2 separate regions of the Homo sapiens genome follow, and region 2 is linked to region 1. Evidence: fine-mapped expression QTL. A gene starts in region 1. The other region holds a variant in brackets. All regions are shown on one strand. Distances are from middle to middle. Region 1 holds the start of DNAH6 (dynein axonemal heavy chain 6). Region 2 overlaps DNAH6 (dynein axonemal heavy chain 6).

The links. PIP is the estimated chance that this variant, and not a neighbour inherited with it, causes the effect.
Region 2: its variant is the best candidate, but not a certain one, in a credible set for the expression of DNAH6 in NK cells (Schmiedel 2018, PIP 0.64).

Annotation. Positions count from the first base shown.
Region 1 is chr2:84,512,987-84,518,491 of GRCh38, reverse strand. It overlaps DNAH6 (dynein axonemal heavy chain 6), which reads right to left and starts at 1,994. Exons shown (of 77, transcript NM_001370.2): 1 at 1,909-1,994; 2 at 441-673. The coding sequence starts at 665.
Region 2 is chr2:84,670,932-84,675,931 of GRCh38, reverse strand. DNAH6 (dynein axonemal heavy chain 6) reads right to left here. Exons shown (of 77, transcript NM_001370.2): 40 at 3,448-3,605. Among named protein-coding and RNA genes, the nearest start is that of DNAH6, 160 kb to the right of the region's middle. The variant CT/T (reference allele first, on the strand shown) is at 2,656.

The DNA.
Region 1 (5,505 bases):
GCATAAATGGTTTCTAAAAATTAAGTATTTTCAACATGCACACAATTTTTTAAATACAAAGGCATGTACTTTGAAAATAATAAAACTATATAACTAAATATAACATTTGCTAAACTTCTCAGTGTTAAATGGTACCCTAATATCTAAAAGTGCCTAATAGCATACATAGTTAAGTATCTGTATTGTACATAATCCTAGAGAGGACTTATCTGCCTGAAAACTTTGTTCACCACTGTATCCTTCAACTTAAACAGTGCCTAGAACTTAATATTTGTTTAATAAATATTTACCGTATTTACAACTACATAAGCAGTTATTATCTTTTAGCTTTTCATTCCTTCTTTGTCAGTTCAGAGTCTGGACATGACTTCTATCCTCCAAAGCAATTTTACAACTTCCTCTGTGGCTACAGAGGCTAAAACAATGGTTTTTGAACTTACCAAAGGCTCTAGTTTTATAGGCTGCTGTCGTTTTCTTGTCTTCTCCTGAGCTTTTGTAATGTGCCTAAACGTTAGGATTTGTGTATCAGATTCATTTTCTGTGGATGTCACATAACTCACTCTTTGTTTGGCTTTTATATTATTCAGTCTTGAAAGTGCAGAATTTTCGGCATACTCTTCAATATTTGTCAGGTCAAATTCACTATCTGTGGCCCGAAAAGTCATCCTTACTCCTGAAAAGAATAGGTGAGGAAAAAGAAAATGAAAAGTAGATCAAAAGGATTGGGGAAGGAGGCTACTGGAGAGGGACTTAAGGACTAGGAAGAGTTGAATTCGCTCACTTCCCTCAAATAAAACCCATCAAAGTTACCCCAGTCTTCCCGAACTGAGGACTTGAACCAAAGGAATAAAAAATTAGAAACTGTGCCTAGGCTTCAAGAACCCCTGTAGCTAGGGTGGAACCCAGGAATTTGCATTTCTTGCAAGTTCTTGGCGGATGCTGCTGCTGCTGCTCATCTGGAGACCACACTGGTCTAGATTTGGAAGGACAAAAGGAAATGTAATTAGTATTGAGATCAATGTTTCTCATCTCCTGCGGAACTTGTTCAAAATGCAGCTAATTCTAGTACACGCAGTCTGAAAAATACAGTATAGGTACTCAAGAAGAAACAAAGGGAAAAAAAAGAATTGAGGGCTAATTTCTTACACAGTGCTTCTGGAGCTTTAACGTGCAGGACAATCACTTGCAGAGCTTGTTAAAATGAAGGTTCTGATTCATACACTTTGAGTAGCAAGGTCCTAAAACACTAGAAATATGAGCCTTTTGTAATGGTCTTGCACTCTGCACCACCACGCACACTTTCACCCCATTAGATGAGTGGAGATACTTCGAAACACCTTCCAAAATAGGGTTAGCACAAGAGGTCTTGAATCAGGTGTCGGCAGACCTAGGTTTTATATAGATCAGTGCTGGCCAATAGAAATATGAGAGCTTTGTATGCAATTTTAATTTTCAAGCAATAGCATTTTTAAAAAAGAAATAGGTGAGATTAATTTTAATAATATGTTTTATTTACCATATACAAAACATAATCATTTGAACACACAGTATAAAAATTATAGTGATATCTTATGTTGTCTTTTGGTACCACGCCTTCAAAATCCAGTGTGCTTTTTACATATGAGCACATTGCAATTCAGACTAGCCACACGAGGTCTAAAGATTACCGTATTTAACAGCGCAGGTCCAGATTTGACCACTCAGCGTGAGATCTTGGACAAGTCTTTTGATATCGCTATTGCTCACTTTCCACCCCTCTAAAATGATGGGCGGATAGCAGACAATCACTGAAATGCCTTTCCATTGATTTTCTCTGCCTCTTTGAGCCTTTATGTTCTCCGAAAGTCAGACTTTGTTTCTGGCCCAGAAATCGGAGCCCAGGCCCGAGGGTCGGTTCCCAGGACTCACCAAGTCAAAATACAGCAACCACCGCCGAGGGTCTCCAGAGAGAGCAATGCCTGGTCGGGAGTAGAAAGTACTCGGTAGCGCGGAATGTTTCCTGTTGCTGCGTAGCAACCAGCTGGCCTCTACGGAAGCACTGCGCCACTGAGTAACACGTCGCCAGGCAACGCCTCAACCAGCCACAGCTTTCGGTCCAGGAGCGCGCCAGGCAATCGAGCCAATTAGTGTCTCCGAAACATTTCCTACTTCGCTGATTGTTGGAGAAGCCGCACAGCCTGGTTCCTCCTCTGCGCTGGGAATTGAGTACTGTGCCAGGAGGTGTAGGCAGAGCAGCCAAAGGAGGTGGTTAATTCTGTTTGCTTCGTTGCTTATCGACCACTCACACCCATCTCAACCTCTTACAGGAATTTCTTTTCTGTTTTCCTTCAAGAGGCGTAAGACTGACTTGACGTTCACTTTAATAGAAATTTATCCGAAAGAGTCGAGAATTTCAGGAGAGGAATGTGGGTTGTGTAGACAAATGAGGTCCCACTCTCCAAGGAAGCAACCACTCTGCATCCCTGCCCTACCCGCCAACCTCCTCCCGAGTGTCTTAAGGCTCAAGAAATGTGGCCTCCTCTTCCCTTAAACTCCACTGTGGCCTTCCAACTAATGTCCTTTTCCACTTGGAAGGTAACCTAGGTGTCAGGCATAGGATGAGCCCGTATTACTTGGTTCCCGTGCCCCTTCTACCAAAGCAGACCCTGGATCTTATTCTGGCGTTTAATCTCACTTAAGTTCCCAAGTGACTGTTGCTAATTTTGTATGGAGCGACCCCATCGAAGGCCAGGGCCTGTTGCTTACTCGGGATGCCTTATCCCAGTTACTGATCAGGGGAAGAAATCCTTTCACCTGTCTTGATGAATCCTTACACCACATGGAGGAGCTCTGGTTTTCAACCTTGTCTCCAAAATGACATAATCATCATTTTCTTTTGCTCTTTTCGGTTGCTCTTTGTTACCTTGATATTTGTTTCTTGCTCTATGTGAAGTTCTTTACATTATTGTACTCACAGCCTGCATCTTCTCAATCTTAACATATTCAGTTATGTATTTGATATGGTAGTATGATTCTCTAAATCACAGATAGAGCTAAAATGGAGATTACAGGTCACATAGTCCAACTCCCCTATTTGATTTGTAAGGGAACTGAAGCCCAGAGAAAGCAAGTGCTTTACTCCAGGTCAGGCAGCTAGTTGTGCCACAGACAAAACTAGAATGCAGATCTCCCAATCCCTAATGAGAAACTGGAAACAGCAAGAGAGTAAAGTCAGTTTAGAAAAAATTTTAAAAATTCTGAAAAACTTCAAATGTAGACAAAATAAAGATTAATTCCCCAGAGATGAAAAATACACACAAAACTAGTCAGCTAGTAAAATGCAATCATTGATATAAACTAATAATGGAAAAAGAAATTCAAAGCCAACTCAGTACATCGAAGCATAAAGTTATAATAACAAGCAATGTTAGACACATCCTCAGAATAGATTTCATTTCAGATGTGCAGTGAAAATTTTAATCTGTTCCCTTCAAAGTTTATGCAATGGAGACAAATCTATTGCTCCTCAATCCTAGACTCCCTTTTTTAGATTAAGGTGGATTGTACACAACTGTTACCATGTGCAGCTGAAAGCATTCCAAAAGCTAAGAAGTGTGTGTGTGTGTGTGTGTGTGTGTGTGTGTGACTGTGGTGAAGTGGGGGTGGGAGGATTGGAAGACACAGACATAGTTTTACAAAGATATTACTATATGAAACACTACTCATCAAATCTCTCCAAGCTTATTTTTTAATGTGGCAAGATGTTATCTTCATTATCAACTGACCACTTACTAAATCAATGTAGCAGCTTTGTGTATAGCCTGCTATTTTTATAGTTCTTATAGATAATTGTTACATTTCATTGGTTGTTTCTTATGTGCCAAGTACTGTGCTTTATATTTCCCATTCATTTTCTTAAGTACTGCTAACAAACATGAAATTCCCATTTCACAGCTAAAGAAGTAGGTTACAAATGGTTACTCACAAGTTCACATCTTTAATAGTAAAAGGAAATGCAGTTAAAATTTTTTTAGCATTAGGTTAAGATTTATATACCAGGCCATTTGTGATGGGTGCTATTCCACTAATCATTGCAATAACCTTATGTTAGAGGTATTATTATACCTATTCCACAGATAGGAAATTGAGGCTTAAAGAGGTTGTGTGACTTTCCCAAGTCACTTCAGAGGTAGTAAGTGGCAGAGCTGAGATACAAATCCAGATCCATCAACTTAAATTTCTATATGAATTTGAGCCCAAGATTATTGAATCATAGAATTCTGCTTCTGGATATATAGTGGAGTATAGCAGGGCTCACAGAAATAAGGGAATCCTCAAGTGTCAAAATAATAATCAGATGAAACCAGAGCAATAAATAACATGGAAGCTGTGGGTGCTGTGGGTACAAATGCCTATACAAAGAACATATAGCTTCAGGGATTAATGCTGAGGAGAAATGGAAGACTAGGCCTTGCTTGAGTCTACACAAAATGGAAGAGCAAACTACAGTTGCCACACACATCTGAGACTGTTGGAAGAATTATCCCCTCAGTAATAGGTTGGACTAGGAAAAAACTGGCAGTGACAAAAACCTACAGGAAAACCAGCATATTTCTACCTGTAGATCCAGGTGGGAAAAAATTGTTAAAAATATAATAGTCTCCCCCAGGAATTTAGGAGTATAGACAAAACTAGTTCTGGGTTTTTCATTTACACTACCTATGTGGTCTGGGGAAAAAAATGCAAGCTACTAGGAAATACCCATGAAGAGAAAGGCATCATCAACTCTGAGTCCTTAGAATTCTCACAAGTTAGTTTCAGCCAAATATAAATTTACAATTAAAAAAAACCCAAGCATACAAGAAAACAAGCCACTCCAAACAAGAGTTAGCAGAATAAACAAGACTTAAAAGGCAAACACATTATATATTAGAACTCTTAAATATAGAATACATAAAATATTTATGAAATGTTCAAGGATAATGACAATATAAAATTTAAAAGTAATTATGGGAATAACATTAGCAAAAATGGTAGAGTAAGGAACTCTAAAAGTCCATCCTTCCACAAAAGTTGTAAGACTTCAGTGACTTTAGAGATTTCAGTAACCACATGTGACAAAGCATACAGTCTTTAAATAATAGTTTACAAAAGTCAGCAACAAACAAATACAACCTACAACAGGCAGAAACAACAAATTCTTAGAAGGCAGGAGAATCTGATTTCCCGAGTTACCATATTATAATATTCAACATATCCAATATCCAATTTTCAACCAAAAGTATGAGACATGCAAACAAAGAAAGTATGGTCCACTTACAGGAAGAAAAACTTAATTAATTATAAATTAAGATGTTAATTGTAATCACAGGGCAACCACTAAGAAAATAACTAAAAAAAAATAGATAAAAAGTGAACCAAAATGGTACACTTAAAAAAATCTACCTCATACAAAAGAAGGCAATAGTGAAAGAATTGAAAAATAACATATAGAAAACAAATACAAAATGTCAAAAGTAAGTCCTT
Region 2 (5,000 bases), 160 kb before region 1:
ATATGCAACTTTGGGAGGCTGAGGCAGGCGGATCACTTGAGTCCAGGAGTTCAAGACCAGGTTGGGCAACACGACGAAACCCAGTCCCTACTAAAAATTCAAAAAATTAGCCAGGCATGGTGGCATGCGCCTGTGGTCCCAGCTACTCGGGGGGCTGAGGTGGGAGGATTGCTTGAGCCTGGGAGGTTGAGGCTGTAGTGAGCCTCTATTGTGCCAGTGCAGTCCAGCCTCAGTGACAGAATGAGACCCTACCTCAAAATAAAATAAAACAAAATTGCAATATAAATCACAGTAAGTTTTTTGAAGGAAAGGGATATAATGTTGAGGCAATGCTTGTTGGGGGAACCTAACTTAGTCTGTGAGTCAGAGAAGATTTGGCCAAGGAAGTGGCACTTGCAGTGGAGAGCTGGAAGGTGATAGTAGCAGAAGACAAGGCCATAGGGGTGAAGGAAGCAGGTGCATTTCTGGCAAAGGGAAGAGTGTGTGCCAATTCCTTTGGTAGGAAGAAGAATCTGAAGACCAAGAGGAAGGCACTCTTGATCCCAGATCTAAAGCACCAAGGCTTGAGGTGGACAAGTCCCTGTCTCTACGTGAATCAGTTCCAATAAACAACGGCTTACTATATACAAGGTATTAAGCTTAGCAGGGGCCATAAAAATGAGGGAGATGGAGGTCAGGAGCTCAGAGTCTAACATGAAGGAATGCAACACAAGATGAGCACATCAACAGCTCTGATTCAAGAAAGAATGTGAAGGCCATAAAGACACACAGTGCTCCATGAGGGTGAAAGAGGAGCTCACACTGGAAATGGGGGTTTAAGGAAAGGCCCTGTGAGCAAGGCTATTTGGAGATGGGCCTTGAAGGAGTAGGAAGATTATAAGGGAAGAGCTGGAGAGCAGGGCCCTTCCAGGTAGAGGACACCATCACAAAGGCATGCCGTGGGGGATATGGGTGCCTTCAGAAGACAGCAAGCCTTATGCCTCAGTGGGACTGTGGGGCATGTGCAGGGAGCAGCAAAAGACCCTCGGATCAGAGCAGCCATTCACAGCCATATGTGGGAGCCTCAGAGTGCCAGGGAGAGGCATTTCCATGTGATTTGTTTGGCAGAGAGGAGCCACTGAGCGCTGGCCTGGTGGGAGGTTTGGCAGTCATTCCCTTCCCACCCTCATCCCCATGGCACTGAGTCAGGGGAATTCTAAACCTGCAAAGGGCACGTGATATTCTCTCCTCACTGCGTTGTTGGGAAGATAAAGTTAGATAAACTTATTTGGAAAGTAAAAAGCCTTATATGCAAAAGACTGCTTTGTTTATAAAGATAAAGTTCCCAGGAACTGAATATGCGTTCATCTTGCATCCGGGGCTCCCTGTGTTGGTGACCAAGGCCCCTTTCTCGAGACCTACTACCTGTGACCCCATCAGTTTTCACCTCTGCACAGCCTGACCCTCTCTTCAGTCTCCATTTATCCCTCTGCCTCTTACACTCATCTTATTTTTTCACTTCAAAGAATGTTTATGCCTTGTTTAAGCTCTCATTTTGATAGACAGAAAGTGCTCTACCTGGATTTCCCAGGGAACTGGAGCTTAGCAATGGGGGCAGGGAGGAATCTTAGCTGAAATCACATATTCAGCAGCCAAATGGCCTGGGCTCTAATCCCAGTTTTGCCACTTGCCAGTAGTGTGACCTTGGACCAGTCACATTACTCCATACTCTTGGTCTATTTCTTGATCTATAAAACAGGGCTGATAGCATTATCCATCTTGTAGGGATGTTGGGTGCTAGTAGGTGGGAAATCCTTAGAATAGTGCCTGGTACAATTATTTGTTTTTATTGTGAGCAAAACGAAACATGCCCCCCGCCCTTTTCTTGTCAAGGGTGTTGGTTTCTCCAGAACAGAAATTTTCTCCAGAACAGAAATGGGACAGTTAACCTAGGTTCCCCCTTCTCCCTCTTGACTCTATACCCCACCTGTGATGGTTAATACTGAATATCAACTTGATTGGATTGAAGGATACAAAGTATTGATCCTGGGTGTGTCTGTGAGAGTGTTGCCAAAGGAAACTAACTTTTGAGTCAGTGGGCTGAGAAAGGCAGAATCACCCTTAACCAACCCTTAATTGTGGGCACAATCTAATCAGCTGCCCATGCAGCTAGACTATAAGGAGGCAGAAAAGTGTGAAAAGAGAGTGGCCTAGCCTTCCAGACTACATCTTCCTCCCAGCCTACATCTTTCTCCCATGCTGGATGCTTCCTGCCCTTGAACATCGGACTCCAAGTTCTCCAGTTTTGGAGGTTGGACTGGCTGTCCTTGCTCCTCAGCCTGCAGACAGCCTATTGTGGGACGTCGGGATCATGTGAGTTAATACTTAATAAACTCCCTTTTATGTATATATGTCTATCCCATTAGTTCTGTCCCTCTAGAGAACCCTGACTAACACACCACCAGTCCTGCTGATCTGCCTTCTGGCTTCTAAACCTTTCTGACCACACACATTAGCACAGGAGGCTCGACCCTCATCTCTTGTCCTCTAGGCTACTGCAGTTGCCTCTGGTCTTGCCTCCTCGTTAGCTCATCCCTCCCCTGCAGCCAAGGGGATCTTTCCATAACATTTCCTTCAGCAGCTCCTCAGCACTTACAGGATAAATCCAGATTCCTC[CT/T]CATGGGCCCACGGCACCATGGGATGTGACCTCTGCCTCTCCTGTTGGTTTGGTGCTCATAATTCACACCACCGTAGTATTTTACATTCCCTGCTTCTGGGGTGTAAAACGCTCCCTTTCCCTGCTTTGGCATGCATGCCTTCAGAATCCATCACTTCTGGGAGGCTTCTCCCATCCTCAACCCAGCCCCACCCCTGAATCCCTCCTGTCTCTCCCCTCTCACCACTCTGCATTAGAAATGTCTGTCCACCCTCTGAAGCTCTCTGGGAGGCAGGGACTGTTTCACTTGTTCATGGATCTCCTGAACCAAGCATGGCAAAAACTCAATATAGACTGAATACACTGAATTACATGGAGGAAAAACTGAGGCCACATGTTATGGACTGAATTGTGTCCCCTGTCCCCAAATCATATGTTGAAGTCCTAACTCAGGGTCTCAGAATGTGACTGTATTTGGAGATAGTCCAAATAAAGAGGAGATAAGCTAAAATGAGGCCATTAGGGTAAGCCCTAATCCAGTATGACAGGTGTCCTTATAAGAAGAGGTTTGGACACAGACAGACACAGAGAGAAGCCCATGTAAAGACATAAGGAAAGAGTGTTCAGAAGAAACCAATCCTGCAGACACCTTGTTCTTAGACGTCTAGTCTTCAGAATTATGAGAAAATAAATTTCTGTTGTGTAAGCCACCCCATCTGTGGTACTTTGTTATGGTAGTCTCACAAACTATACATCATATTTCCTTGTCATTTAAATTTAAGCACACCAAGTAATTTAAAAGCTAAAGTAACCTGTATTTCTTTCCAAAACAGTTTGTTTCTGTCATAAAATCCCCCAAAATCTTGATACTGCCGAAGTAATTCAATCGGAGGCTGAGAGCCATAGCGATCCAGTCTGGGCATGTTTAAATCATCAACAAAAATCACAATTCGTTTGTTTCCCGGTGCTCCTAGGGAAATAAAATGAATTTAATTTAAGAATTATGATTTTCCCTTAGAAAATGTAAGACAAAGCTAGGGTATGACTTTGGACTCAATGACATCCTACAGGTCATAAAGAGCTCAGTTCTGAGTCCTGCCTGGAGGAGGAGAGACTTCCTTCTGGCCCCACCCAGGCCCCTGCAGGAAGATGTGGTCCTGGTCAAGACGTCCACGTTGTCATGCCAGGTGGCCCCTTATCCTCACTGTCAGGGCACAAGATGGTGGCCTCTCTCCAGCAAGGAGTGAACCTTTCTCTGTCTCAGCCACACTCACTGCCCTCAGCAACCATGTGGCTTAGGCATGAATGAGGAACATCATTTTCTTTCCATAGTAGGAAGAGGAAGAATGCCAAAGTTTCCTTTCATAAATGTCATCACAGTACCCTCACAGGGAAACCAGATTAGATATTCAAAAGCATCCTGATCACATCAAAGGGAAATCCAGTGCAGTGGGGCTGCACAATGCCACATTTAAATGAATATACACACTCATTAGAAAAAGGAATGAGTGATAGCAGAGGAAAGAGAAACCCGATGGGCAAATAGCCATGTCCTTGTGGTTGGGATTACTACAGGAGGTGATTCCAAGGCAAACTGAGTGCTCCACTCCATCCTGTGGCCCCCTGGAAGCCAAGCAGCAGGAAGGGGTGGGGGGTAAGGAAGGGGTCTAAGATAAACCTTTGTAAGAATTTGGGGCCCCCACCAGAAAATAGACTGGCATCTGTTGCCCTTTGCCTACCTAAGCAGGAGAGAGGGGACAGAGACAGAAGGCAGTGAAGCAGCTGGCAGCACCATTGTTTGGCATGACAGGGCCTGCTGGATGGTGGGCAATGTGGGAGGCAGCCAAGCCTGAGCCCTGGCTGGTGCACCACCCCAGAGACTGTGGACTGAGCAAGTGGGGCCCCAGCTGCAAGAGGGTGCAGATGGACTGCTGGAGAGTGAGGGCTGAGGTCCTGACTCCCACCCTCAGGGAAACTTCCAGTGATAAGGTCAATGCCTGGCTTGCAAACAGCTCTTTTGGGAGTTGCTTACAAGAGCCCACTCCTGAAAACCTGCCTCACAGACAGCATAGACACCACTCAGTGCCAGCTAGAGAAGCAGGGACCAGCCACAGAGAGGCCCATCTGAACACTGGCTAGGGAGAAGAAACTTGTCCTTTCCTTCTTCTCCTCCCATTCCCTGCATACTCCAGCCTCCTACAGGGAGGGTGGGGAGGAGTGAAGAGCATCCCATGACCCCTTCACCTCCCATACGTACCTGGAGCCACAAACCTGGCTTAGGACAGATGAGAGGAGGAACTTTGAATTGGGTATTGGATTGAGGCTTAGACTGGCCCAGACTCCAAATGTCTGAAGGTGACCAGAA